Linked DNA regions of Homo sapiens. The protein of the gene in region 1 purifies or fractionates together with the protein of each later gene. This does not show direct contact. Each region holds a gene or a part of one and is shown in the gene's direction. Other genes may lie near its edges.

Region 1 (7,455 bases):
AACAGGGGTCCCCTTTACCCTCTGTTTCTTGCTTTACCCAACCCCACAGCATATCCCAGAACATTCACAAAGGGCCCAGCTTCCCACTCCCCCACCCCTTGGTCCATTTCGGAGCAACTTCTCCAGGCAAGAGAGATGCCCACCTCTGTTCTCAAGAGGCAGATGCATTATTTAAGCCTGTGCCAGGCCTGCGCCTGGGACTGGAATGTGAGCATGCAGGTCTGCAACCTGGCAGAGCCCATGCTGGAGACAGGTTTTTAGTGTTGGGTGGATCCTGATGCAATTTACATGAGCTACAGGGGCACATGGTATCTCTGCCGAGCCCTGGGGGTCAGAGGCACCTTGCACGCATCTCTTGTGCCAGATGAATCCAGCAAATGAGCCCACGGGGAACCTCGGCACCTCTCATGGTCTGGGAGCCTCACGTACAGCTTTGTTCTCCCTCATGCAGAGCAAACGTGGCCCAGCACCCATGAGACCCTCCTGACCACGTGGAAGATTGTGGCGTTCACGGCAACCAGTGTGCTGCTGGTGCTGCTGCTCGTCATCCTGGCCAGGATGTTCCAGACCAAGTTCAAGGCCCACTTTCCCCCCAGGTCAGTGTCATGTCTTGGCAGCTGTGGCTCAAGGTCTGACTCAATGCAGCTACCCTTAGCAGCAGAGGGAGAAAGTGATGAGTGAAAAGTTGAAGCTCTAAAGGGAAACAGGGGAGAGCAAAAACAATGTTCTGGGATGTTTTGAGCACAAAGCTGGAGACAGACCTCATTTTCCTCTTTCTTTCTTTCCTACCTCTCTCCCTCCTTCCTGCAGTAGACCATTTGCAGGTGGGCATCATGGGGGGCTAGCGATGGGATCACAGAGTTAGGGCTACAGGCTGTGGACTGCTCCACCCAGAGGCACCATTCCCACTGTGGTCCCCCTGCATGTGGCCCTGGAGTGAAGCACCACACAGCTCAGTCTATAGGGAGGGTAAGATGCGCACACAGCTGACTGGGACACAGGTCAGAGGTGTGTGAACAAAAGTGTTATGCATTGAGAAGCCTCAGGAAGGAGAAAAGACTTTTCTGATTCCAGGAGCAATCAGGAAAGGGCTAGTGAGAGTCTACCATGAAGTCTTATCTGAACCCCTGGAGTGGGACATGTGGAAGGCGCTTCTACATCCTTCTGAGCTGCACCAATCAGCTCGGGTTGGTATCTTCAGCCTCAAGTCATCACCACCAAAGAGGACTGCACCAGCACCCTTAGGAACAAAGAAGAGCCACCCAGCACTACTGCTGGCAAATCATTGTTCCTGGAGGGAGAAGTAGTTTAGACAGCAAAAGGATAAGTTTATGAACATTGAGAAGAAGAGGTGAGGACAGCAAAACACCACAGAACACTAGCCAGGGGCCATTGGTACAAGCTGTCTTTTCCTTGCCTTCTGTGGCCATGTCAGAGTCTTCTCATTTCAGAACCTAATGCTTCAGAAAAGGGCATTTGTTTTTTGCCCACAGGGACAGCCTAGTCCCCAGAGTCATATGTACCTGAAAAAGGGACTATTGCTCATGGAGGAGGAGGCTCCTGGAATTAACCACTTCTCTCTTCCCTTCAGGAAAATGCAGTGTGTTGCTCACATCTCCCAGCTGTGAGAGGAGTGAAGGAAATGGGCAGAGCTGCTGGAGACAGCACCTACCCGCCTTTGCCCTTAACCTCACACCTCACAGGGCGGCCTCCCTCACTTAGCAATTCTCCCCTGCCTGGCAGCAGGGACCCGCTATGGTCACAACCTGATAGGTGCATCCCTCTTTCCCCAGCCACAAATGTGTGCTAGATGTGGGTGTCACCTGCATCCCTCCCCAGGCCCAGAGGTGTGTCAGTGCCATCCTGGTGCCATAGCAAGCTCTTGCTAAGATGCTGAAACCTTCCTTCCTCTCCAACCTGCCATCCACTCTCTGTCTTCCACATTATTATATATTCATCAAGGGACCATGTTCTATCATTGAGCAATTACAGTATCTCAAGAAGGCCTAAGGATTACAAAGAGAAAGCCAACCCACAAGGCTGTGATTGATAGTGCGTTCAAGTACTTTAAAAGAGCCCACAGAGCTATTTTTCTACATATGCTTGGAAGAAAAGTTTCCAGGATATCCACTAAATATTAAGATGTTTTTAAAATGTTCTTGAAACCCTTTCATTTGATGTTCTTCAGCCCTTGAGTCTTTCATCTTATATTATTCTTGAGTTGTTTTGGGAAGGTTGGCTTCAAATACATGACATGAATCCAAATGCATGACAAGAATCTCAAGGGCAAACCAAGAATGGACTTTTTTTCTCCAGGTTCCACAAGAGTAGAGCCTGCAGGGATGTTGACGAGGGGTGTATGGGAGCTGAGTGGCATGGCGGGGACACGTGGAGGGGAAGCTGCCAGATCTTGGGAGCTGTATCCTGGGTGTGGACTGTTAGGGTGAGAAATGGAGAAGAGAGGCGTCTGCTCACCCTGGCCTAGACAACATGGAGGTGCCAGGGATGGTGAGGAGGCAGGGAGTCCTGAGTGAGAAGAGGAGGCCAGCACAAGACAGTGAAGTGGCCGGAGAGGAAGGGAGCATCATTGTCAAGGAAGCAGTAACTACTGGTAAGCAGTAACTACTGGTGGCTGTGGAGGGAGAGCAGTCTGGCTCGGAGCAAGCTCCTCCTTTCCTCCTGCCTCTTGTCTTCTGCCCCCTGAAGAGCATGGTCTTGGTGGTCTCCCGCCCTCTCTGGGCAGTCTTTAAGAGCTGCGGGACAAGGAGTCCACCACCATAATCTCCAAGCCTTTGCAAGATGTTTCAAAAAGTCAGTGGACTTGAGCTTTAGAGAGACGCACAGCCTGTGCTTCCCCTCCACCCCCAGACGTTTCATCTTCTTGGGTTTAGAGCCCCTGCCGCCAGCACTCAGAGATTCAGGGTCTGCCCACCCAGCTGGGTCTTCTCTTCCTCATATTTTACCTTTGGCCTCCTCCCTCAGCACCAGTTCCCAGCAGAGACAATAAGAAACCAAGTTCCGGCCGGGCACAGTGGCTCACGTCTGTAATCCCAGCACTCTAGGAGTCTGAGGCAGGTGGATCACCTGAGGTCAGGAGTTCAAGACCAGCCTGGCCAACATGGTGAAACCTTGTCTCTCCTAAAAATACAAAAATTAGCTGGGGGTGGTGGTGCATGCCTGTAATCCCAGCTACTCGGGAGGCTGAGGCAGGAGAATCGCATGAGCCTGGGAGGCGGAGGTTTCAGTGAGCCAAGATCGTGCCACTGTACTCCAGCCTGAGTGACAGAGTGAGACTCTATCTCAAAAAAAAAAAAAAAAAAAAAAAAAGGAAGAAACCAAGTTCTATTGGCTACTTATTAGCCACCCTGGGTTCCTCTTGAGGCCAGGAGCAGAGTATGGGGGTCACACGGAGCCCAGGCTGTGATGTCAGACGCCCCGGGCTCCAATCAGGCAGTGTTGAATGTGCAGAGGGCTGAGAAGCAAAGGGAGCAGGCCAGGAACTGTGTGCGCGCCCACGTGAGGGAGCCCTGCAGACATGCAGACTCACTTTGCCGCCGCTCCTGGAGCCCTCACACCAGCAACCCGGGCCTTGCTTAGAAGAGTGGCGGGGGGTCAGGAGGTGGCGGTGAGCCTGCGTAGCTTGAACGGGGTAGTGACATAGTGCTCACAGCTTTCCTTTTTTTTCCTTCTTTCCTTTTTCTTTTTCTTTTTTTAAATCTAGACTAAAATGTAATGATTTTTATACTGAATGCAGAAAACAACAAAGAAACATGATGAGCATAGGGCCAGCTAGTCCCTCTGGGCACTGAGGGTCCACAGTTACTGTTTTTTGTTTGTTTGTTTGTTTGTTTATGAGACAACATCTCGCTCTGTTACCCAGGCTGGAGTGCAGTGGTGCGATCATGGCTCACTGCAGCCTCAAACTCCTGGGCTCCAGGGATCCTCCTGCCTCAGCCTCTTGAATAGCTAGGGCTACAGGCACGTGCCACCACATGTGGCTAACATTTTTATTTTTTGTATAGGCAGGGTTTCACTATGTTGCCCAGGCTGGTCTCAAACTCCTGGGCTCAAGCAAAACCTCCCAAAGTGCTGGGATTGCAGGTGTGAGCCACCACACCTGACCTATTTTCTGTACTTTTAACAGTGCTATCCCACTTTCAATCCCATCCTACAGGACACTTCAGAGGTGCACTGGGCTGCTCTGTTAGAAAGGGTTATGTTGTCCCTTGCTCCATGAGCTTATGGCCAGAAGGCCAAAGCCCACAGGTCAAAGGAGCAAGGGAAAAAGCATGAGGAGATAGTAAGGCCCAGAGGCAGGAGGACACGAGAGAGTGACAAAAAGAAAACCTCCTCTCTCCGGAGCATGGGCAGCCGGGATGGCAGCATCATCTTCCAGAGGAGTCCCTGAAAGGAGGCTGGTTCTTCCATATTATCCTCCATACGGGACTCTGCTGCCCATCGTGGGTCCTGAGGACCCCGAGTGCAGGAGGGAGTATGGGTGGCCTCATCCCCAGAGTGGCATGGCTCTCACATGTTGGCACTTCTTTCCTTTACACAGGGGGCCTCCCCGGAGTTCCAGCAGTGACCCTGACTTTGTGGTGGTAGACGGCGTGCCCGTCATGCTCCCGTCCTATGACGAAGCTGTGAGTGGCGGCTTGAGTGCCTTAGGCCCCGGGTACATGGCCTCTGTGGGCCAGGGCTGCCCCTTACCCGTGGACGACCAGAGCCCCCCAGCATACCCCGGCTCAGGGGACACGGACACAGGCCCAGGGGAGTCAGAAACCTGTGACAGCGTCTCAGGCTCTTCTGAGCTGCTCCAAAGTCTGTATTCACCTCCCAGGTGCCAAGAGAGCACCCACCCTGCTTCGGACAACCCTGACATAATTGCCAGCACGGCAGAGGAGGTGGCATCCACCAGCCCAGGCATCGACATTGCAGATGGTAAGTGCTTGCCCCAGGGCCCAAGCCACACCTGCAAACACCTCCGCACCAGCATCTTCAAGCCAGCTCCTTGCTACGCACGCTCCACCCCCCAGCACAGAGTCGAATCAATCTGTTTACCTCTCACTCAGCTTAAATTGCTTCATGCTCTCTCTCCATGTAGAGGCCTTGGGCAAGGCCAATTATTGTAGGGAATGATCATCATCTTGCAAGTAATGAGCCCATTAATGGAAATTTCAAGAGGCACCAAAAGGCATCGAGCCATCCAGAGTAGAAAGGCAGCAGTGGCCGGTGCTTCATTTTTGTGGTGTCTGTATGATCTGGAATGTATTTCTTCTTTATTCCTTAATTAGATAGGACTCCTGGAAGTGGGGCTTAGGGACAGGATGGCACATACATGCCAGGAAGAAGGATCCAGAGGCACGCACTAGGGCCCAGCAGTGTGTTCTAGCCCCAGAGTTCTGTGTACATAGAAGTTATTTTTACCAGATGTGAAGTAAAAGATGCATGTGTACCTGTCACAAGGAAGGGTAGATTCATGGTAAAATAAGGAAAATGTGTCAGATTGATTAGGTCTCTGTTTCCTACAGAAGGGGAGCCCCAGTGCCACTTTGCAAATGAGAGCACTAATTTGGCTTATATTGAGAGTAAATGGCAGTAATGACGTGGAAACAGAGGTCTCCTGGGCCACCACAGTGTTCCTTTTCTGCAAACCACGCTGCCTTTCTGTACTTGAATTTGCAACTTTCTGGCTTGTGTGACCATTAAGGCCTATGGTTAAAATGTAACATTTTATTTTTTATGAACTGGAAATAAGATCATAATTGTTTCCTGGCAAAGAACAATTGTTACAGAAAGATGTTGTATAGGAGGTTGATTTATTTGGTTATTAACTGGTATGTGGAACTTAACATTTTCTTCTCCTCACTGATTTGAGAAACTGTAGATATTTTAATGAGGCATATAATTCCAGATCGTCATGGTGTTTTCTGGTTATGTTAAGCTAATAACCGTCTCTTCTTTTACAGAGATTCCTCTAATGGAAGAAGATCCCTAATATGGGTCAAGATCCAGATGACTCTCCTGCTCCTTCGGGGAAAGGACCTTGTATCTTGGAGTGAGGTCACAGAAGGATAGAGCCTGGGGGCAAAATGTCTAACTTGTCTACATGGGGACCACAGTTCACATTATGCATCTCAGGCTCCACAGTGAGGCTGACAAACTGCAATGGCAGTGCTTTTAAATGAGATTTGAGGATTCACCAAGACCCATGGGGAACCGGGGCAGCAGGGAAGCCCTCGCGTGGTCTTGGATGAGGGGTGTTAAATGTGTATCGTGCTGTGGAACATGGGACAATTCCACGCACATCCCACCGAATCATCACGCATCCCATTGACTGGCAAGTACTCCCCGCCCCCTCTGAAAGCATGTCACATCATGTAAATTTGCTTCTAACATCTGCTTCAAACTGTCTCTGGACTCCAAATTTGGATGGGTCAGCCTCTGCAGAAAGTTTGTGTTGAGATGCTGGAAGAACAGCAGAGCCTCCTGCACCCTCAGCAAGGGACCAGCTCCCAAAGGAAAGGTCCTTGTGTGACATTTGGAGAATCTTCCTTCATCCAGACAACTCTACTCGAAGCAAGACGAAAGCAGGATGTGGCAGTTGCAGTGAGAAAGGAAAGGAAAGATGGGCAGACTCTGCTTTCTGGAAATTTCTTCACAAAGTAGAGCTCATGAACTCTGTGCTGTCTTCTGGTAACATATCATCAGTGTTTGTATTCATGGTGTGGCACATGGATCCATGGCATTGGGTAAATCTGGTGGTTTTTACACATGGTCAGAATGTGTTCAAATACATCTCATGATGGAGACAGTAACCAAGGTAATGTTTTGTTTCAGCATTTTAAAAAGACTCCACTTAACATTTATCTCAGAATCATGAGCCTCTCTCTAGTTGACAATTGTCATTGTTCCCCCAGCCCCAAATTGAACCATACATTTATTTTCCAAAACAGAAATTGTTTCTGTAAACATATCCGACCTTCAAAAGAAGTGTGAGGTTGGATTTTTCCCCCTTTTATTTGTCCTAAGATTCCAGGAGGCTGGCCTCCCAGCCCAGATAGCTCAGCCACCTCACCTGCCTATCATTCCTGCATTCCTACTTTGAGGGTCTCATCATGCCCACTGGGTGTTGTTCCTAAGAAACTGATTGATTAAAAAATTTCCCAAAGTGTCCTGAAGTGTCTCTTCAAATACATGTTGATCTGTGGAGTTGATTCCTTTCCTTCTCTTGGTTTTAGACAAATGTAAACAAAGCTCTGATCCTTAAAATTGCTATGCTGATAGAGTGGTGAGGGCTGGAAGCTTGATCAAGTCCTGTTTCTTCTTGACACAGACTGATTAAAAATTAAAAGAAAATGACAGTTTGAAGCGTGACTTTAATAGTGCAGTAGAGTCGGGTGGGCAGGAGTGGGGTGGTGACAGTGATCATGGATGATGGGATTCAATGTAAGA
Region 2 (7,455 bases), on another chromosome or scaffold:
GGGGAAGGAAGTATCTGATGAGCATGCCTGGGAACCAAAACTGTCAAGGAAGCTAAATTTTGTGATTCTCAGTTAGGACTACTTGTTAACTCTGTCTTTTTAAGAGATACAGCTGTGAAAATGTATGACCTTTTTTTTTAATGCCATGGGTATTGCATAAATAGGAATAATAATAAATAGGAATGTGTAATAATTAGGACACAGTAATAAATTAGGACAGAGAGGTACTATTAATATTATATTTATTAGAATTTTATTACAAGTTGTCTGTAATATATAGCTAGCAGACTCAGTGAATTGGCAAATAGTATTTTGTTTTAATAAGATTAAAATCAGCAGATGTCACCCTGGATAAGTACGTTAGAATGAATTTTTTCACAGATCTCAGAATTGTCGTTGTTAGAATGGAGAAAAGAATAATGTTTTATTCAGAAGAAATAATGAATTTTCCTCTGTTCTTCAATTCAGGAAATGTTTATTGAATTTCATATGTTCTTGGTACCGCTGAAGCCCAGATGATAAAGTAGTGACCTGGACAGAGAAAGTGCTTCTGTGCTGTAGATCCAGTCTCTGTGACTGAACAGATGGGAACAGGACTGAAAATGTTAGCTGTTACACATTTCTTTCTAAAACAGCAGAAATGATAAGAGATTACTGTGTCCATATTGTGGAGACAACACTTGATAAACCAGCTATCCTTTCTTGGCATGGAGGGCAGGCTGATTTTTGTGTAGTCATCTAGATTTCTTGTCTGCTTAATAACAAGGTTGTGAACAAAGGTGAACTCATCCATTCAGGTTGTTTCCTAAAGATGTTTAAATTACTAGTTAAAAAATATCAATTGAACCAATTATTCTGATTATAAAAGTAACAGTATTGTTTCAGTAAATTTTTCATGTTTTAATGGATTAGTTGGGTGATAGCCTTTGATTTTATTATTCCGTGTATTTAACATTGCTTTCTAGTGATTTAAGACAAGTCCTGTTTTCTTAAATTTTTATTAGCAGAGACTACTTTTAAGTACTGGCTTAAACAGAAATAATTTTAAGTTAAGAATATCCATTTTCAAATTGAGTATGATCAAGGAGAGTTATGTACGGCTAATAATTAGAAGTACTAATATCTAATATTGTTTTCCTTCATGCAGGTACCATACATTATCTGTATCATAAAGTTTCCATTTGAAGGTTATTTATTTTATATATACACCCTTTTTTAGGTCAGCTTATTTCGGATCAAGTGGCAGAAATCGTATCTAAATACGACCCCAATGTTTACAGCATCAAGTATAATAACCAATTAGCAACTCGGACTGCACAAGCTATTTTTGATGACAGCTATTTGGGTAGGTAAAACCAAAATTTACTCATTTTTGGAACTGTGGTACATATATCTTATATCTGAGTATGGTCTTTTAAGTAGAAAAATATTTTATGTGAAATAGATTAGGATTTTTTGAAACATACAGAATATACAATTTCAAATTGTTAATGAGTACTTTGGTTATGTTACGTTTCAGTAATTGAAATTGAAGACAGTGATTATTTGTGCAGTGATAATAATAATAGCTAGCCTTTAAGATATGCTTACTGTGTTCTGGGCATTGTTCAAGGTGACTTGGTTTGTATTCACTCATTTAATCCTCACAAGTCAAGCATACTGTATTATTCTCATTTTGTAGGTGAAAACACTGAGGCACTGAGACGCAAAATAACTTGCCCAAAGTCACTCGCTTGTAACTTGCTGTTCAGAGATTCAAATGGAGACAGTCTAACTCCTGAAGTTTTCTTCATGATGTTAAATAAAAGTTTTGGTCTTTAGGACTTATTAACATGTGTTCTCTCTTTCAATTTCTTTATGATATATTAAAACAAGTCATATATGACAGAAATAGTACTTGCTGATTGAGAGAATTTATTTGTTCTTTATGATGAGTTGTAAATTTGGTGTTTTTAACAGACTCCTTTGTAAAGTTAATAAGACAATTGTAGTTTTGTAATAAAAATAGACTATTTGAGTATTTAACTCAGTTTCATTTAAAATTCATATGTCATATATATATGAATCTGTTATGACTAGGGGACAAAATATTGCATAAGTAAAGGAGTTTCTTGAAAATATTTTCAAGGAATGCTTACTCAGCAAGCCTGCTGAAGATAACGTCCTTGTCCTGATGGTTCTCCCCTTTGGTTTCCTGTTTAGGTTATTCTGTGGCTGTCGGAGATTTCAATGGTGATGGCATAGATGGTATGAAGTACTTGAACTATATCTAATCTTTAAAAAAATTAGATTAAGTATTTGAAACATGTGGCATTGAAAATTTTAAGCAGTTTGAGTGGCTGGGTGCTGTGGCTGCAGCCTGTAATCTCAGCACTTTGGGAGGCTGAGGCGGGTGGATCCCTTGAGCCCTGGAGTTCAAGAACAGTCTGGACAACATGGCAAAACCCTGCCTCTAGAAAAAACACAAAAATTAGCCGGGCGCGGTGATGCACACCAGTGTCTAGCTTCTCAGGAGGCTGAGGTGGGAGGATCTCCAGAGCCCAGGGAGGTTGAGGCTGCTGTGAGTTGTGATTGCGCCACTGCACTCCCGCCCGGGCGACAGAGCCGAGACCCTGTCTCAAAAAAAAAAAAAAAAAAGGAAAAGAAAATAAAATTTTAAGCAATTTTAAACCATTGTTATGGAATATAACAGAAGAAATGAGGAAGATGTTAGCACACTGGTGAGAGTCCAGGCTAGGTCTGTGCTGAACTTCCTCTAGTGGCTGCTGAAATTGAGACAGCTACACTTGGCTTCAGTGCCTTTCCTTTCTGCTTCTTTTTAGCCCCCAACACTGTTAGTGATTTCCTTAGCATTTTCCTCCTTGTCTTCAGCAAATTCATTCCTCTGGGAGGAAGAATTAGTGTCTTCTTTCTTTAGGCATCCTTTGTTACCTTCTGGGCCATCTCTGTACGGTTATTACCCCATCCTCTCATTGTCCATCCATCTTCCTTCAGAGCTCCGTTTAGGAATCACAGTCTTTACCTGATTTTGATCACATTTTTGTGCCACAGCCACTTCTACCCCACTTCAGTTTGCTCTGTATTATTTTTCATTACTGTACTACTAAACTAAATGTAGTTTTTCTTCATTCTTAGGTTACTTTATCTTGTCTATTCTTGTTTAACAATATTACAAATGACTTGAGGGCTTATTTGCATATGTTTGAGAGCCCTCCAGAATTTGTATTTTGTAAATTTTGATTTTATAGTTTAAAAATGCTGGGCTATTTATTACGGAGTACCAATTTTTCTAAATTGATTGTTTGTTTTGAACTGAAGTAGTAAAACTTAAAGCTTGCTGACATAGTCACTTCTGGTCTGCAACTTCCAGTGTTGTCCTAAAAAATGAATAATTTGTTTGTTTGTTTGTTTCAGACTTTGTTTCAGGAGTTCCAAGAGCAGCAAGGACTTTGGGAATGGTAGGACAGTTAAAAGGTATTTTTTAAAAAATCTCTAAGTTATCTTCTATTTTACCAGATTTCACATACTTCTATTTTTCCTTCACAGGTTTATATTTATGATGGGAAGAACATGTCCTCCTTATACAATTTTACTGGCGAGCAGGTATGCTTCCAAAATATGATCGTCCTCTCCCACTATAAAAGCAGTATGTACTCATTGGAGAAAATTTGCGAAATAAAACTGTAAAAATGAACTATAATCTCATCAAATAGATAATTCTTCCAACTCTTACCATTTTGGTCAAACTATTATCATTTCTCTTTTGAGCGTGTGTGTGTGTGTGTGTGTGTGTGTGTGTGTGTGTGTGTAGTATATAAACAAAAATTGGTTTACTCTGTATTTTTCATTTTGTCTTGCCTTTTTCACTCAATATTTTATCATCAGAGTTTCTAATTTCTTAAAACTTTCCTTGGCAGTATCAGAATGGTTTAATGATTCCATAATATTCAATATTCTAGATATAAGATGGGCTTTAAATATTTCATCTTTGTTTTAACCAAAGTAATTTGGATATTTTGGCTTGTTTTTGTTTCCTTTTTTTTTTTTTTTTAGGAAATGCAAAATCACATGCATACAAAACCACAAAGACTTCCTTTTTCTTTACTGAAAAGAAAAAAGAGAAAAGAATTCTTTAAATTCTTTTTTAAGGATGATCAATGCCTTATAATTTTATTAGATGCAACAGAAAGCATGGCACAGATATGTGTATTATAGATATTATAAGCGAACTTCATTTTTACTACATGAAATAAGATATTTCTCAGCTAAAAAAATGCTAGTACTTTTTAAGTATTAGACATTTCTCTGCGAGTACAGGCATTTTATAATATTCTCTGTTGTATGTCTCAAAGAATTATACCATAAGTTGGTAATGATGAATAAACATTTAAACAGTAGGTAGAGAAAAATCTTTCTCAAAGTTTGCAGATCTGGGATTCAAGCCTTTTTGTTCAGTTGAGATTGTTGGGCTTTGGGATAGGATTGACAGGCTGACTGACTAGACTCATGGTCCCCAGAAACCTCCTCCCATTTGTATGGCAGTCAAGATTGATGCACAACCTGGAGGGCCCTGCAGTTGACAGGCAGTTAGGGTTGCTGCAGGGGTGGTCCCTTTGTTCCGTTTTGACTTCTCCAGCTCAAGCAGCTTCTCCTGTCTGGTGACCATGTATGAGTCTGGATCCTACTGCATGCACTCAATGATACTTGCTTTATTCCTCCTTCCACTATTGGGAAGTGGGGGTGGCTAGAGAGGAGTGGGAAGCGTGGCTTTTAGATGAGGACAAACCTGGGTTTTCCATGCTCAATCTGTTATTGCATTGGATAAGGTATTTGCTGCTGAAAATCTGTTTCTTATTTATAAAAATAGGGATGCTGACAACTTCCTCATGGGACAGTTGTGAGAATCAAAAGAAAACATTCGAATCATAGTGCCCGGGACAAAGTGTGTCTCAGTAAATGCCATCCTTTCTTTACACTTCCAAGCCAAACACCATAGGTGACTAAGGCCCATGAATATTATTCTGTTACATAGTCGGCACATCAACCTTGTACCCCAAACACAGTATATTTTATTTCACAAGCTCTGAACTTGTTATTTAATACAGAACACACCTTTCATTTTCCCAATTACACTGTATCAACCCAAAATAGATAATGCAGGAATCTCCCTTATCATTCTCCCTTGATATCTGAGCCAATCAAATTTGAGAAGCATTGCTAACTTTCCTTTTTTGGTTTGTTGACTCATTTTTCACCTTACTTTATATTTAATCTGTCATCTCTTTTAGTTTTGTTTTGCACTTTCAGCTCTCTTTAGAGCTTTCCTTTTTCACATTTATTTACAGCTAAGCTGCTCATCCTATGCAAGCCTGTGGTCTCCTGTGGTAGGGAAGAGGACATTTCTGCTCCCTGTGCATTATAAGCTCATAATAAACCCAAACACATTTGTACTGTGTGTGATTCAAAAGCAAAATCATGTGGCAAGTAATCTATAGAGATATGACACAAAAATGAGCTCCTTTCCATATCTTTCCAAACAGTAATTTTTAAACAGTAGTAGTAGTTACACATAGGGGAGCCAATTATTATCTGTTATTAATAATTATTATCTATTATCCTCATGACATAGGCATCCATATAAAACTTGTTGGGTTCAATCACAACATTTGTCTGTGACTATATATCTTTGTTAGTGTGCTTGTGTCTGGTATGTTTTGGGAAGTGGAGAGAAAGGGAGATAGTAGGGTAGGCCTGAGAAGGAGAATTGATAGTCCTTAGACTTAAATGTCATATATCAACAACACTGGAAGGATATACATGTAATATATTGTGTATATACATGTAATATATTGTGTCCATGATCTAGGAAAACAACAAGCCTCATTACCTGATTGTCATTGTGTTGGTAGAATAAACAAAAGACAAGACATTTAGATTGAAGCACTATATGCAGAGAAAAAAAATAACCCTATTTGGTACATATATTACAAATGTTAATTGTCTAAACTAATTGGATGAAATATAAACATTTCATTTTCATCTTTTTATCCAGATGGCTGCATATTTCGGATTTTCTGTAGCTGCCACTGACATTAATGGAGATGAGTAAGTTTAAAAAAAAATGTTTCCAGAAAGTTATCTTCTCATGTTTACGAATACTTTACTCAAACTAAACATTTTTTTCTTCTGTTTTTGTATTCCTTTTCTGCTAATCTTTCTGTTTAAGGAAACAATTTGAAGCAACCTTAATCATGAATTCTAGAAAACCTCATATGTTTGTTCTGTTTTTTTTCAGTAGCTTTTATAACATGAACAAATAAAGTAATTTTATGAATTATTCATAGTTTCTTAAAAGAATTAAAGGAAGTTTCAAATTTGAAATGAGTGCTCTGGTAATCATTTTGTGTTTCACTGTGGGTGTGAGAGATGCAGAAAGAGGAAAAGTGAGTTGTAGTAAGAAAGAAAATGCCTACTAAGACATGAAATTTGTTCTTGCTTTGGTGAGAAGTTTCTGTTCTTCTAGTTATGCAGATGTGTTTATTGGAGCACCTCTCTTCATGGATCGTGGCTCTGATGGCAAACTCCAAGAGGTGGGGCAGGTCTCAGTGTCTCTACAGAGAGCTTCAGGAGACTTCCAGACGACAAAGCTGAATGGATTTGAGGTCTTTGCACGGTTTGGCAGTGCCATAGCTCCTTTGGGAGATCTGGACCAGGATGGTTTCAATGGTAAGATCAAAGTTTAGCAGCTACAGGTCCCTGATTATCTGTGTCCACCTGGAAAAGTTCTGTAAGTCCATCTGTAGAAGTCTACACGAGCAAATCTCCTTCCTGGAAAGGTGGATTGTGTGTAAGTGAGTAACACACCAAATTTAAAGACAGTTTGCTATTTTTCTTTAAAAATCAGAGCAAAGATTTCAATAATGGACTCTCATGAGTTATTATTCACTTGGCCTCAAATTAGAAGGTCAGAATGATTACTTTCTGAAAGGAACCTTCATTACCCTGGTGCCTACTGCTAGCTGGTATGTGTTTCTGCATCCTGCTTAGCAGCAGTGCCCTCTTCTGTTCATTTGGCTACAAGTGTTAAAAAAAAATGCTTCCAGGCACATTGTCAAGGCAATGCTGACTAATGCATACCTCAAAGGTATGATTTGCCATTAATATTTTTAAAGCCATAACTTTGTTGTAGCTGTCCAAAATGTTCTAAGGGATGTTATATCTCCCTTTATGGTGGCATATTAAAAGTATAAGCCTATTCGTTTATAATAGTACCATTTTAATAGTTGTCGATATCTTTAAAAAGCAAAGTTAGCTTTTACTTTAGAACTCTTTTCAGAAACCTGAAATATAGGTTACAAATTACCAAGATTTTTTTTTTAATCTGTTAAAAACCTTTCTAGAGATCACAGAATGGATAGTTGAACTAGTTTGTGTAATCAACAGTATAGTAAGCCT
Region 3 (7,455 bases), on another chromosome or scaffold:
TAAAAGATTATCCTTTGTAGCCACCATGATTAAGGGCAGGGACTCTGGAGCCTGCTAGCCTGGGCTCAAATCCCAGCTCAGCCACCAGATAGCCACCTATTGCTCAGTGACCCTGAGTGAAGCATTGAACCTCTGTGCCTCAGTTTCCTCCTTTGTAAAAGGGAATAATAATAGTACCCATGGCCTTAAAGTTGTTTTGAGAATAAATAAGTCGATGTGGACAGCACTTAGAACAGTGCCTGGCACGTGGTACATACCATAAAAGTGTTTCATATTATCCCTATGTTTTAAATGTAAAAAGCCTTATCTTGGCCAGGTACAGTGGCTCACACCTGTAATCACAGCACTTTGGGAGATCGAAGAAGGCAGATTGCTTGAGCCCAGGAGTTCAAGACCAGCCTGGGCAATATACCAAGACCTTATCTCTACAAAAAAAACAAAAAACGAAATTAGCTGGGCATGGTGGCACATACCTGTAGTCCCAGCTACTTGGGAGGCTGAGGTGGGAGGATTGCTTGAGCCTGGGAGGTCGAGGCTGCAGTGAGCTGTGATCGTGCCACTGCACTCCAGCCTGGGGCACAGAGTGGGACCCCGTCTCAAAAAAAAAAAAAAAAAAATTTAAGAGAGAAAGAGAGAAAGAAAAAGAAAAGGCCTATATTTTAGAAAGTGATAGAGCTGGGAGGTTTTCTGTTTGGTTTGGTTTTTGTTGGTTGGTTGGTTTTCTCAATGTCTTTACTTGATCATTAAAAAAAGCAGCAGCAGCAGCTGGTAACCCTATTTGCCCTATACTTCTTTTTGTACTCATCTTTGATACCCAGAAGTCTAAGAAATACTGATTTGTAAAGAACTGTTTTACCCAAAATTGTAGCACTTTTCTTTGCAACTTATTTTCTCCCAAACACTCCAGCTTCCTGAGATTCCTCTTGAGTGCTTAGAAGAGTACCTGGCTTATCAGAAGGGCTAGATAAGAGTTAGTCCTTTTATTCTTGTATATCGATTTTTTTTGCATATCTTATTAGGATGGATCTAGAAGTAGAATTGCTGGGTCAAGAGCATTCCTATTAAAATGGAGACTCCTGTGACTCGGCTGTCTTCCTGAAACATTATACGTGGAAGTGTCCACTTCCTCACACCCCGCCATTTTCTATGACATCCAAGCAGGAAAACTGGGTGGACAATGAGGTGAGGAGGTGCAGAAATTCCTGTCGCCTCCTCCCCTCCTGAGCTCAGAATAGTTTGGGTCTGAAAGACGGCTGCTCCCCACAGGGAGGTAGAGGAGGTGAGATGCAGAGGCTCGCAGCCCCCTAACTCTCACGGGCACCCTGGGAGATCTTGTTCAAGGCACAAGATTTCACACGCTGACGGCCACAACTAGCCTGCCTAAAGCAGCCAGTTTTGCTTGAAAGATGAGCTCCACTTATCCAGAGTGGGTGCCCCACTCTGGGCTGGGGCCAAGTCTAGAGCTCTTCGTCTTACTTGGCCACAGAAAGAAAAAGGGCGGAACATGCTGAGGATGCCATTGTGCCTCTTCCTCCTTTACATTTAATGGACCAGTAGAGAAGAAGGAATGCGTTTCACCTTTCTGTAAGTAACACGCTCAGTTCATTCCTTCCCAGCTCTCCATCCACGAGATGGATGACCCCCACGGCAAGCGCTTCCTCATGGTGATGAAGGGGGCCCCTGAGCGCATCCTAGAGAAATGCAGCACCATCATGATCAACGGCGAGGAGCACCCACTGGACAAGAGCACTGCCAAGACCTTCCACACAGCCTACATGGAGCTGGGCGGGTTGGGCGAGCGTGTGCTGGGTGAGTGCGGCGGCAGGGCCCTGCCCATCACCTGGTGGGCACAGAGATGAGGCAGGCGCCTTGAGGACCTGTGACCTAGCCCAGTGGCCATGGCATCCACGTGAAGCATGTAAAGGAGAACATGATAAGCAGGATGGGAACAAGGAGAGGATGCTGTGTGACAGCACCAAGCAGGGTGGGATGGCCTCCAGAGAGGCAAGCTCAGGGAAGACTTTATGGAAGGAGTTAAATTTCAAACTGGGCCTTAAGTGACTGCATTTGAGGGGAGATAGGGGAAAGTATCCAGGGCCCAGGGAACAGCACAGGCCAATCACAGAGGCAGAACGGCGTGGGGCACATTGGGTGCTGCCAGCAGGTGAGATGGCACTGTCACAGAAACAGGGTTCAAGGGCTGGACTGGAGGTCATGAGATGGAGGTCTTGAACATCTGGGTGAGGAGCCAGGTTTCATCCTGCAGTCAGTAGAGAGCACTGAGGGCTGTGCCACTAGAGTGAGCTGGGCAGTCGCAGGGCTGGGGAAGACTTTATGGAAGGAGTTAAATTTCTTTAACTTCTTTAAATGTCTTTGGCGGCAGCAGGGAGAGGAGAGATGCACATCTCCATAGGAAGCAGCTGCCCTTGCTCAGGCAAAAGGGATGGGAATTTTTTCAGGGTGATGGGAATGGGAAGGAGAGATCAGGGCAAGAGACTTCATAGAGGTAGAGTTTGGTAAGATTTAGAACCTATCAGAGAAGGATAATGTTTAAAAATGATTAAGCTTCCCATTTAACGACTAGGAAGAGAGTGATGCCAGTGATGCAGACAAAGTGTCAGGAAGGAAGGAACCTTAGAAATGCAACAGGAGGAGGACCCAATGGGGGTGCCTGCGGTGTTGTCAAAGGGGACAGTGTGTCCTGTTGTCAGCACCAGGGCTGGCGGAATGGTGCCCCATCAGGACCACAGAATGACAAATTCAAGGAAACAGAAGTGTATGGTTGACGATCCGGCTCATTAAACACCATGGAAGTCCTCACCAATACAGATGCAGTCTGTGGAATGTGTGTTTCTAAAGGCTATTGGAGTTGGCAAATCAGATAAAGCATATAAATGAGATGGTGATGCTTTAGGCATCCAATAACCCACAGTACCGGGTATTCTACACGGGATCGATGCCCACTTGCGTTTGATTTCTCAAAGCCTGCTCCATTGACATTTGCAAAGCAGTGGGCCAGGCTGAAAATAAATTGGATGTGAAAGCTGATCACACAATCTTGGAGGTCCCACCAGACACAAGAGTCCCTTCCACCTCAGCCTATGAGAGGCTGATGCCTTCTGAGAAAAGGATGGCTCGGCCCCATTCCTGCTGGCCTTTCTCTTGGGCTTATCTTGATCTAGCACTGAACTTTGTGCCCCTCCGCTGAACCCCCTTGTTCCTTCACATGCTGTTTTCTCTGCTGAAAATGGCCTTCCCACCTCCACCCTCCCTTTTTTCCCTAGAAATCATCTTTGCCCCTCTCAAGCTTCACCTCACATGTGACCTCCTTGGGGAAGTCTCTCCTAATCCTCCAGGCAGCTGAAATGTGTCTCTGCCCTGAGATGTACCCTATGCTTGATCCCTTTAACTCTGTGCCCCGCTAAACTTCAGAAGTCGAGACTGTGTATTGCCCTAGAACTTGGCAATATAGCAAGATATATTTCTAGAACACAGAGCCTAATGAGCTCACAGTGAATTATATTTGGATGAAATATGTCTTTCCTAAAAAAATGCATTATGGAGTTGAAGAAATTAAACAATTCTGGCTTATTCTAATGTATTGGTAAAACAGCAGAGGACCAAGGTGTATGAGCATGTTCTCCTCTTATTTTTTTTCGTTTCCTATTCTAGTTTCACTGACTCACTAATTCATCTGTATTACAGGTTTCTGTCATCTCTACCTGCCAGCAGACGAGTTTCCAGAAACCTACTCATTTGACATAGACGCTATGAACTTTCCGACCTCCAACCTCTGTTTTGTGGGACTCTTGTCAATGATCGATCCCCCTCGGTCCACCGTGCCAGATGCAGTCACCAAATGCCGGAGTGCAGGGATCAAGGTGGGAGTTATTTTCCTGACTCAAGAAGTTCTTTCTTTATGTCGTGTTCCTTTCTAATAATGGTTTTCATAGCAGATGGTCAGTATTTAGGTGTCTTCAAGTAAATATCATAATTCCTATTTTATTTCTAGTTTCACTGTGCTAAGGTTACTGAAACTGTCCCACAAAAAGAAAATGATTGTGTCTATGTGGAATGAACCACATAAACAGTAAATGCAATGAGAAGAATCTCCTAGTGCCTTGAAGTGACCATATCTCGCCCTAGTCCATGGTAGATACTAAAAGGCTTTATTGGCTGGGCGCAGTGGCTCATGCCTGAAATCCCAGCACTTTGGGAAGCTGAGGCAGGCGGATCATCTGAGGTCAGGAGTTCCAGACCAGCCATGGCCAACATGGTGAAACCCCGTTTCTACTAAAAATACAAAAAAATTAGCCAGATGTGGTGGCACACACCTGTAATCCCAGCTACTCGGGAGGCTGAGGCAGGAGAATCTCTTGAATCCAGGAGGCAGAGGTTGCAGTGAGCCGAGATCACACCATTGCACTCCAGCTTGGGCAACAAGAGTGAAACTCTGTCTCAAAAAAAAAAAAAAAAAAAGAAAGAAAGAAAAGAAAAGAAAAAAAGAAAGAAAAAAGGCTTTATTACTCAGTCTTGAGGCTCAGCCCCCATAATCCATGTTCATCATTACTAGGTTAATATTAAGACTGTTGAAGTAACATGGGGCTACCCCCAAGTAGACACTCACCAGCCCTTTCACAAATAAAGTGGCATCAAAGGGGAAGGGCTTCCTTTCATGTCAGAGGAGGAAGCGTATGAAGCTTAGGAGCAAGGGTAGACCCAATGGGATTAGTGTTTCCTCCAAAGACAGTTGTCTCGTAGATCCAGAGCTGCCACTGTAATCACCAACCACGTTCTCCCAGGGCACTACAGAGTAGGTATTACTGAACCATCCCCACTTTGGCCAACCGAGTTCTTCATTACCCGTGGGCCTTCTCGTTGTCTTTGCTCTAGGTTATTATGGTTACTGGTGATCATCCCATCACAGCCAAAGCTATTGCCAAGAGTGTGGGGATCATTTCAGCCAACAGTGAAACAGTGGAAGACATTGCACATCGCCTCAACATTGCTGTGGAGCAAGTTAACAAACGGTAAGCACAGGAGCAGCATAGTAAAAATTCCAGTTTATACCCATGGGGCCCCACTGGCTCTAAAGAGCTGCACTACTTGGAACAAATCAGCTTTTTGCTCTCAGAGTTATGCTAGGCTTGTTTGAGCTATTATTTGCATATCCATGTATTCACTCTAATTTCACTGAGCAGCTAATATGTGCCAGGCACAGTATTGATACCATGAAATGACCCTTTATGTGTTCCTTGTTTGAAATTTCAAAATCCAGTGTGCCCTGGGCACAAAACCTATGTGCCCAATTTAGAATAAGAAAAACTGAAACAAAGGGTTTATGTGAAATTACTTGCCATAGATGCAGTTGCATAATTTGGAATCGTAAGAACCCTGTGGGTTGTTTCATGCACCCTCCTTGGTAAGCATCTTGGGTATTTATCCACCCGGTTTCATAACGTGTAGCTATGTAAACACACCCTTCTTTTTTATTTGGTAATAGATAGAATGGAAGCTTCCTAAGGAAAGTTTTTTTCCTTGTTTCTCCTAATTCTTTTAATCATGTTTATCCTTATTCTTTTAATCATGTTCATCCAACTGTACATTCACTCATGTATTTGTTCTTTCAACAAGTATTTACTGCGTGCCAACTATATACCAGGCAAGACCTGGAACTACAGTAGCAAACTGAACAATACTATCCACACCGTTGGGGAATCTTTCCATCGAGCCAAGGAGACACAAACAAAGCTAACAATGATGTGGCCAGTGTAATGAGGGAGCCACACAAGGCTAGGGAGCTGGGCATGCAGGAGAGTGGCCTGGACTGTGCCTGGTCTCCATGAGTCAAAGACTCCGAATTCTCAGGTTGAGAAGTAATGTTCATTAGCTGGGTTATGTTTTCACGCATGCGGGAGATGAGGGAAAGACCAATGCACCTCTTCAGTTTCCCCAAGCACTTAGGTCTTTTAGGGACACACAGCTGTCAGGTCATAACAAATTACCACGTTAGACAACCAACCAGGGTTCCCGCCTCTGGGCACAGCAGCAGTACCTGAAGTCTAAGAGTCTTGCAGTGCCCTTTAGTATACATAACATCCCTCTATGAAAACAACTTTGGGGCTTGTTTATTTGTTTGGTTTTGTAAGATAATCGGATTATACTTTTTTTCACTTTAGAATTTTAAACAAATTTTGTTTGTTTGTTTGTTTGTTTATTTAGACAGAGTCTCTCTCTGTCACCCACGCTGTAATGCAGTGGTGTGATCTCAGCTCACTGCAATCTCCACCTCCTGGGTTCAAGCGATTCTCCTGCCTCAGCCTCCTGAATAGCTGGGATTACAGGCGCCCGCCACCATGCCTGGCTAATTTTGTATTTTTAGTAGAGACGGGGCTTTGCCATGTTGGCCAGGCTGGTCTCAAACTCCTGACCTCAAGTGATCCACCCACCTTAGCCTCCCAAAGTGCTGGGCTTACAGGCGTGAGCCACCACACCTGGACTAAAAGAAATTTTTTTAAGAGTAGTCAAGTGCAGTAGTGAGAAGAGGGGAAAGAGTAGAAGTTTGATCTGTAACTGACTGTGAACAATCAGTTGAGCTAATTCACTACTACCTTCAGACCAGCCGAGTCTTCTTTTTTTAGATACAAGGTGTCCTGTCAGATCACCCAGGCTGGAGTGCAATGGTGTGATCATAGCTCACTGCAGCCTCGACCTCCTGGGTTCAAGGGATCCTCCCCTCTCAGCCTCCCAAGTAGCTGGGACTACAGGCTTGTGTCACTGCACCCAGCTTCATTTTAGCAGATTTTTTTTTTTTTGAGATGGAGTCTTTCTCTGTTGCCTAGGCTGGAGTGTGGAGTGCAGTGGTGAAATCTCATTGCAGCCTCCACCTCCTGGGTTCAAGGGATCCTCCCCTCTCAGCCTCCCAAGTAGCTGGGACTTTAATTTAAAATTTTAGCAGATTTTTTTTTTTTTGAGATGGAGTCTTTCTCTGTTGCCTAGGCTGGAGTGTGGAGTGCAGTGGTGAAATCTCATTGCAGCCTCCACCTCCTGGGTTCAAGCAATTCTCCTGCCTCAGCCTCCTGAGTAGCTGGGGTTACAGGCATGTGCCACCACACCCGGCTAGTTTTTGTACTTTTAGTAGAGACGGGGTTTCACGATGTTGGCCAGGCTGGTCTTTAACTCCTGACTGCAAGGGTTCTGCTCGCCTTGGCTTCCCAGAGTGTAGAGATTACAGGCGTAAGCCACTGCGCCTGGCCCATTTTAGCAATTTTTAATGAAAGTTGTATATAAGATACCTTATTCCTGCATCTTCTCAATTGCTTCTTTTTTATATTTGCCCTTCCTTCCCTACTTAGGAAGATTTGTTTGGCCTTCCATTCAAGGATCTTTTGTGGTCTTTGTCTAGTTTTAGCCTGGTGATGGCCATGTGCTGGTGACGTGCACACGACGGTCCTG
Region 4 (7,455 bases), on another chromosome or scaffold:
AACACACTCCTCATCTCCCTCTGACAGCCACCATTCTACTTTGTATCTCTCTCTGCCTTCTCTAGGTACCTCATGTAAGTGGAATTATACCAATATTTGCCCTTGTGTGACTGGCTTCTTTCATGTGACATGGTGTCCTCAAGGTTCATCTGTGTTATAGCCTGTGTCAGAATTTCCTTCCTTAAAGCCTGAATAATAACCCGTTGTAAAGGCTGGGCGCGGTGGCTCACACCCTCTAATCCCAGCATTTTGGGAGTCCGAGGTGGGCAGATCACTTGAGGTCAGGAGTTTGAGACCAGCCTGGCCAACATAGTGAAACCCTGGCTCTACTAAAAGTACAAAATTAGCTGGGTGTGGTGGCGCGCACCTGTAATCCCAGTTACTCAGGAGGCTGAGGCAGGAGAATCGCTTGTACCCGGGAGGCAGAGGTTGCAGTGAACCAAGATTGTGCCTCTGCAGTCCAGCCTGGGTAACAGAGTGAGACTTCCTGTCTCAAAAAAAAAAAAAATCATCGGATGGATGGACGGACCACTTCTTGTTATTTATCCATCCACGGGTGCTAGGTTTCTTCCACCTTTGGTTGTCGTGAATAAGGCCACTATGAACATTTCCTTCCGTGGTGAAGGTTTTGTACTAGTGAGGAAAAGGCGTGTTTGTGGTGTTGCATAGGATTCTGGTAAGAAAGTTTGCACTAACCATAAGTATTTGTACTACATTAAAATGAAAGCTCAGGGGCCGGGCGCGGTGGCTCACGCCTGTAATCCCAGCACTTTGGGAGGCCAGGGCGGGCGGATCATGAGGTCAGGAGATCAAGACCATCCTGGCCAACATGGTGAAACCCCGTCTCTACTAAAAATACCAAAAAACTAGCCAGGTGTGGTGGCGGGCACCTGTAGTCCCAGCTACTTGGGAGGCTGAGGCAGGAGAATGGCGTGAACCCGGGAGGCGGAGCTTGCGGTGAGCCGAGATCGCTTCACTGCACTCGAGCCTGGGCAACAGAGCAAGACTCCGTCTCACGCAAAACTCTGTCTCACGCAAGACTCCGTCTCAAAAAAAAAAAGAGTTCAGGGTTTATGAAACTGGCCAGCCGCGTAAAGTTTGCTGTGTTGTTTTTGTGCCCGGGAGGAGTGTGGCCAGGGTGTCACGTCACACAGTACACGTTTCTCAGATGGTGGTTCTCCAGACTGCTGTCCCAAAGTCTGTTTTTGCATCTGGTTCCCACAGACCCACCCTCCACGGTGAGCCTGATTTTGGCCAGGGTAGCTGGAATCTTGCTTGTCTTTCAGCCCGGCAGCTGTACCAGTCCAGGGTCCACAGCTAGTGGCTTTTAGGAAGGAATTTGTTCAGTTGGCTTTGACACATGGCCCCCTAGGGTCCACAGCTCTGTAGTGATGTGGATGTTGTTATCTACAAAGACACATGATCCTTCGTGTCCAGATGAAAGTGATGATGTCTTTGCAGCTGCCCAGCAAGGCTGTGTGTGTGTGTGTGTGTGTGTGTGTGTGTGTGTGTGGTGTGTGTGTGGTGTGTGTGTGTGTATGGGGGAGGGAGGCACCCTTTCCATCTGGGGGTGTGTGTGTGTGGGGTGTGTGTGTGTGTGTGCGCGTGTGTGTGGTGTGTGGTGTGTGTGTGTGTATGGGGGAGGCACCCTTTCCATCTGGGTCCAAGAGACTGGGCCTGGGGAAGACGCTTCTTTTTATCTACTTAGAGACTTTGTTTTATTTGTATTTTTTTGAGACAGGGTCTCACTCTGTCACCCAGGCTGGGGTATGGTGATATGAGCATAGCTCACTGCAGCCTCGGCCTCCCAGGCTGAAGCGATCCTCCCACCTCAGCCTTCTGAATAGCTGGGACTGTAGGCGTGCGTCACCATACTGAGCTATTGTTTTTTTTGTTTGGTTGGTTTAATTTTTTTTGATACAGATGGAGTCTTGCTATGTTGCCCAGACTAGTCTCAAACTCCTGAACTCAAGTGATTCTCCCACCTCAGTTTCCCGACATTCTGGGATCACAGGTGTGAGCCACTGCTGTCTCCCTGTTTTATTAACTGCTGAAAGACCTAGATAAAGAAAGTCTGAAAAGACTTACTATCAGAGCACCATCCTAAGATGATTCCCTCTGACTCAATGGAGAGGGAGGGGAGCTTTTCCTTCAGGCCTGGGTGGCAGGAGCCCAGGTGCTCCAGGCCCCATTTGCCCCAGGCCAAATCACTCGGGAACTTGGATGCAGCTGTCTTTCAGGGTAACCCAAAGGAACCAGATCCCCGCAGGCAGTAGGCTTCTGGGCTGTCCTCTCCTCCTACGTCAGCTCAGTAAGAGCCCTTCGAAGGGATGCTGTGTCGGAGGCCCCAAAAGCCCAGGCTCATCCCTGAGATGCACAGGGTGGGCTGGGCTTAGGCAGCGCTCGAGCATCTCCTGGACGGTGACCCCAGAGAGTGTGGAGACGGAGAGTCCTTGAGAGTCACTGAGAGACGTGGCTGCCCTGCCTTCCCAAGAGGGGCTCTGAGTCATTCCCCACACTCACCTGCCCCTACCCACCCTCACCTGGCCCCCAGCCTCACCTACCCCCACATCTGTACCGATCCCTTTACCCGCACCTTCCCTACCCACCCTCACCTCCCCTGTACCTTCACCTCCCCCACTCACCCGCCCCTGCACCCTCACCTGTCCCCCACCTTCACCTAACCCCCACCCTCACCTGCCCTCCCCTCACCTGGCCTCCTTCCGTTGGGGAAGGGGTTGTAAGGGGCGGCCCCCAAACTGTCTGTCCTGGTGCCCTGCAGAGAAAACAGTACGTGAGGGCCGCAGTCCAAAAGCTTGAGTCCTGGAAGGTGGAGGAGACAGGGATGTGTTGGGAAGGGCCCCATGGTCTTGGATCCCTTCTCGACTGTCAATGGGGCCTTCATGGGAGCGCCAGTCTAGTGATGCACAGCTGGGTGCCCGGCGGGTGGCTGAGGAGGCCTAAAGTCCGAGGCGGCAAGAGCTCTTCCAGAGGCTGTTGTCCTAATCGCTCTGGCATACTCAGGCGGGCACGTAGTTAGGAGCTGATTGGAGAGGAGAGACCCCCACACCAATACTGGGATTTGACTTTCAGGCTAAACTTGAGAAGTGTGGCCTCTGCTGTCCTGCCAGAGCTCTCCAGCCAGTGCCCAGGGCTCTCCAGCCAGTGCCCGGGGGTCTCCACCAGTGCCCGGGGGTCTCCGCCAGTGCCAGGGGTCTCCGCCAGTGCCCAGGGGTCTCCGCCAGTGCTCAGGAGTCTTGGTTTCTTTGTCTTACAGCCCTTTGTTTTGACCTCTCTGAGCCAAGGCCAAAACCCAGACAGGCAGCCCCACGACCTCAGCATCGACATCTACAGCCGGACACTGTTCTGGACGTGCGAGGCCACCAATACCATCAACGTCCACAGGCTGAGCGGGGAAGCCATGGGGGTGGTGCTGCGTGGGGACCGCGACAAGCCCAGGGCCATCGTCGTCAACGCGGAGCGAGGGTAGGAGGCCAACGGGTGGGTGGGGGTGCTGCCCGTCCAGGCGTGCCCGCCGTGTCTTCTGCCGAATGCCAGCCTCTCACAGGCTGGGGAGACTTTCCACCCTGGGGATCCAATGGGTGGCTTTCCAGGGTCCCAAAAGCAAACACAGGCTCTTTCACAGCCCCTCCAGGAAAGCAGAAAGCCCCAAGGGCTGGAAGGGAAGGGGGAGCTCTGCTGAGAGGTTACAAGGCAGCGCTGGCCGACGGGAGTTGCAGTTGATAGGTTTTGTATCATCCTTGTTAAACTTGAACCCTGTGCAGAAATCCCTTCCACGGCATGGGGGCTGCCTGTTGACTCGCTCCTGTTCCACCACAGGGAGCTCCTGGGCTTCTTCCTCCCAGAGGCCCCCGACGCTCCCACCTGTTGGTCGTCAGAGCTTCTGGTTGGTGGGAAGGCACCCAGGACCTTGAGGTCTCCAGAGAGAAAAGCCAGGGAAAGAGGGAGACCGAAACCCATGTGACATGAAACTCAGGCTCCAAACTGAGCACGGGAACGTTTGGGGACAGGAGCGCGATGGCCTTCCTCAGATAGCTGGGGGGCTGGCATGAAGACGGGAGCTACAGCCAGCACAGGTCCTGGGCCGGGAGCCCAGAGATTGAGCCCTGACTCTGTCACTTACTGGCCACGTGACCTTGGGCGGGTGGCATAGCCTCTTGGAGACTCAGTTTCCTCATTGGTAGGAGTGACGGCCACAGTGGTGCGGCCTCTGCAGCACACGGGGGGCTCGGTGGGCGGAAGCCCCGGGTCTATAAGGCGGCTGTGCAGGAGCCAGCCGAGCTGGTCTCCCAACAGCCAGGGCTCCGGGGTCCTTAGCAGCTGTGGGGGGCCTGCACCTGTTTCCCATGGCTGCTGTCAGAAATTACCAGAAGCCAGGTGGCTGAGAGTAATGGACACTTGTTCTCTCACAGTTCCTGAGGGCTGAAGCCCGAGATCGAGGTGTGGGCAGGGCCCTGCGCCCTCTGAAGGCTCTGAGGGAACCTTTGGGCTTCTGGTGGCTCCAGGCACCCCTTGACTTGTGGTCCTGTCACTCCAGTCTCTCTGTCTGGCTGCACATGGCGTGGCCTCTTCTGTACCATTGAAGGACACTTCAGTTGGATTTAGGGCCTACCCTCACCCATTGTGGTCGTATCTTGATCCTTCATGACATTTGTAAAGACCCTGCTTCCAAATAAGCTCACATTCTGAGGTTCTGGGGTGAGCGGGAATTTGGAGAGCATTGTTCAACTAGTATAGAATGTGACCTGTCAGCCTCGGGCAGCCCTGAGAGGCAGGGGCTTTCCACAGCCCAGCTGGGTGCCCTGGGCTCCGTGCTGTCCGAGGAGACGCCATCCCCACACCCGTCCTTCACCCGCCACCCTCCCGCAGGTACCTGTACTTCACCAACATGCAGGACCGGGCAGCCAAGATCGAACGCGCAGCCCTGGACGGCACCGAGCGCGAGGTCCTCTTCACCACCGGCCTCATCCGCCCTGTGGCCCTGGTGGTGGACAACACACTGGGCAAGCTGTTCTGGGTGGACGCGGACCTGAAGCGCATTGAGAGCTGTGACCTGTCAGGTACGCGCCCCGGGGCCTGCCCTAACCGCAGACACCCGGCCTTCATTGTCAGTAATGGCAGCAGCTGCCACATTGTCCGAGACCTGCCGTGAGCCCAGTGCCGCGCCAGGGGCTTTGTGTGTAGCGTGTTTTGTCCTCACACTGACAGCTGTAGGCTGGGGTTCTGAGTGAGCCCCACAGGGCAGAGGCAGAAAATGAGTCTCAGAGAGGGTGAGCGAGCTGCTTGGGGCCCCACAGCAGGAGATGGAGCAGGACTGCAGCCTAGCCTCTGCCCCCAGCACCTGCGCAAGAAGCTGCTCTGCTCTGGACTGTGTTAGGCTGCGAGGGCTGGAGAGAAATGAGAGTTGGTGCTTAGAGAGGGGGCGCAGGTCCCCATGGCTTTTCCTCTTATGATGAGGTAGATGGGTGAAGGGAGGGGCCATGCTTGCAGGGGCCAGTGACCGAGGCCCGCCGTTGGAACTGATGGCCTTCATCCCGAGCCCAGCCCAGGTGGGAGCAGGGCTTTCCGAGGGCTTGTCTTGGGTCGGCCTGCTTCCAGGGACTCTGCTGCAGCTCCCACCCCTGTCCAAAGCATGGAATCCCCCAGGCTCCCTGGCAGTCCTGTCAACCTCTGTCCTCCCAAGCTGAGTGTGGGGCAAGTTCTGGAGGTCAGCACTGCTCAGGGGGGCCCACGGGCTGCTTGCAGGGGCCAACCGCCTGACCCTGGAGGACGCCAACATCGTGCAGCCTCTGGGCCTGACCATCCTTGGCAAGCATCTCTACTGGATCGACCGCCAGCAGCAGATGATCGAGCGTGTGGAGAAGACCACCGGGGACAAGCGGACTCGCATCCAGGGCCGTGTCGCCCACCTCACTGGCATCCATGCAGTGGAGGAAGTCAGCCTGGAGGAGTTCTGTACGTGGGGGCTGGCAGTGGGGTGGGCAGGGTGGCCTCTAAACCCGACCCCTGGAGGAGGCTGGAGGCCAGTGCAAGATCCTGTGTGGCCTCAGCCAGGCGGTGGTCTCTGCCAGATGCCAACTGTTGCCCGCTGGGGTTCAGCGACATGTCCGAATGTCCCGAGGCCTCTGAGGTTGTTTTCTTTTGCCGCAGAACAAATCACCACGAACAGCGTTTTAAGACAACACCAACTCTTTTTTTTTTTTTTTTTTTGAGTCAGGATCTTGCTCTGTTGCCCAGGCTGGGGTGCCCTGGTGCAAACACAGTTCACTGCAGCCTCGACCTCTGGGCTTAATTAAGTGAACACCTTGCCTCAGCCTCCCAGGTAGCTGGGACTACAGGTGGGCACCACCACACCTGGCTAATTTTTTTTTGTAGAGACGGGGTTTCCCCATGTTGCCCAGGCTGGTCTGCAACTCCTGGGCACAAGCTATCTGCCTGCTGTGGCCTCCCAAAGTGCTAGGATTATAGGTGTGAGCCACTGGCCTGACAACACCCACGGATTGTCTCTCAGTTCTGTAAGGCAAAGTCCAGGCACAGCGTGGCTCACCTGGGTTCTCTGCTCAGGGTCTCACGGGGCCAGAATCAAGGTGTCAGGAACGCTGGGCCCTCAGCGGAGGCTCTGTGGAGAAATTAGCTTCCTTGCTCACTCAGCAGGTAGCAGTTGTGGGATCGAGGTTCTGTTTTCTCTCTGGTTATTGGTCGGGGACCACTCTCAGCTCCTAGAGGCCACCACAGGTCCTTGCCCCGTGGCCCTCTCTGCCTCAGCAGTGGGGGCTCCCTGCGTCAGTCCCTCCCACACCTTGAGTCTCTCTGATTTGCTTCTAAAGGGCCCTGTGATTCGGCTCAGCCACCTTTAGATTAGGTTAGCCTCCCCTTTGATAGACTCCAAGTCGGCTGATTAATAACCTTAATCACATCTGCAGAATCCCTTCTGCCACATAAGGTCATGACGCCGTGCTGGGGACTGGGGTGGGAAATTACGGGGTCATTTAGGATTCTGCCTGCCACTGCCTTGCTGTGTCCCAGGGCTTGGGGGAGGGGCCTCCACAGCTGGGACCACAGTCCTTCCTCCCCTCCATGGTAACCATCTGAGGATTACTTGAGACCAGCCTGGGCAACATGGTGAGAACCCATCCCTACAAAAAATACAAACAAAAAGGGACCAGGCTGGGCTTGGTGGCTCATGCCTATAATCCCAGCACTTTGGGAGACCAAGGTGGGCTGATCACTTGAGGTTGGGAGTTCGAGACCAGCCTGCCCAACATAGTGAAATCCCGTCTCTACTAAAAATACAAAAATTAGCTGGGTGTGGTGGCAGGCGCCTGTATTCCCAGCTACTGGGGAGGCTGAGGTGGGAGAATTACTTGAACCTGGGAGGCGGAAGTTGCAGTGAGCCAAAATTACGCCACTGCACTCCAGCCTAGGCAATAGAGT

What was found.
Region 2: the proteins of SUSD4 (region 1) and ITGAV purify together in Homo sapiens (affinity purification with mass spectrometry; 3 studies listed by BioGRID and IntAct, with this or other methods). This does not show direct contact.
Region 3: the proteins of SUSD4 (region 1) and ATP12A purify together in Homo sapiens (affinity purification with mass spectrometry; 3 studies listed by BioGRID and IntAct, with this or other methods). This does not show direct contact.
Region 4: the proteins of SUSD4 (region 1) and LRP5 purify together in Homo sapiens (affinity purification with mass spectrometry; 3 studies listed by BioGRID and IntAct, with this or other methods). This does not show direct contact.

Annotation. Positions count from the first base shown.
Region 1 is NC_000001.11:223,220,735-223,228,189, reverse strand, and holds the end of SUSD4 (sushi domain-containing protein 4 isoform a precursor), read left to right. Parts: intron 1-451; coding exon 452-596; intron 597-4,558; coding exon 4,559-4,941; intron 4,942-5,969; coding exon 5,970-5,998; 3' UTR 5,999-7,359; downstream 7,360-7,455. UniProt on the Homo sapiens protein: Acts as a complement inhibitor by disrupting the formation of the classical C3 convertase.
Region 2 is NC_000002.12:186,634,863-186,642,317, forward strand, and holds part of ITGAV (integrin alpha-V isoform 1 preproprotein), read left to right. Parts: intron 1-1,219; coding exon 1,220-1,345; intron 1,346-2,202; coding exon 2,203-2,247; intron 2,248-3,414; coding exon 3,415-3,458; intron 3,459-3,546; coding exon 3,547-3,603; intron 3,604-6,052; coding exon 6,053-6,105; intron 6,106-6,523; coding exon 6,524-6,726; intron 6,727-7,455.
Region 3 is NC_000013.11:24,697,042-24,704,496, forward strand, and holds part of ATP12A (potassium-transporting ATPase alpha chain 2), read left to right. Parts: intron 1-1,616; coding exon 1,617-1,809; intron 1,810-3,705; coding exon 3,706-3,881; intron 3,882-4,893; coding exon 4,894-5,030; intron 5,031-7,455. UniProt on the Homo sapiens protein: The catalytic subunit of a H(+)/K(+) ATPase and/or Na(+)/K(+) ATPase pump which transports K(+) ions in exchange for Na(+) and/or H(+) ions across the apical membrane of epithelial cells.
Region 4 is NC_000011.10:68,420,212-68,427,666, forward strand, and holds part of LRP5 (low-density lipoprotein receptor-related protein 5 isoform 1 precursor), read left to right. Parts: intron 1-3,277; coding exon 3,278-3,486; intron 3,487-4,890; coding exon 4,891-5,081; intron 5,082-5,766; coding exon 5,767-5,976; intron 5,977-7,455. UniProt on the Homo sapiens protein: Acts as a coreceptor with members of the frizzled family of seven-transmembrane spanning receptors to transduce signal by Wnt proteins.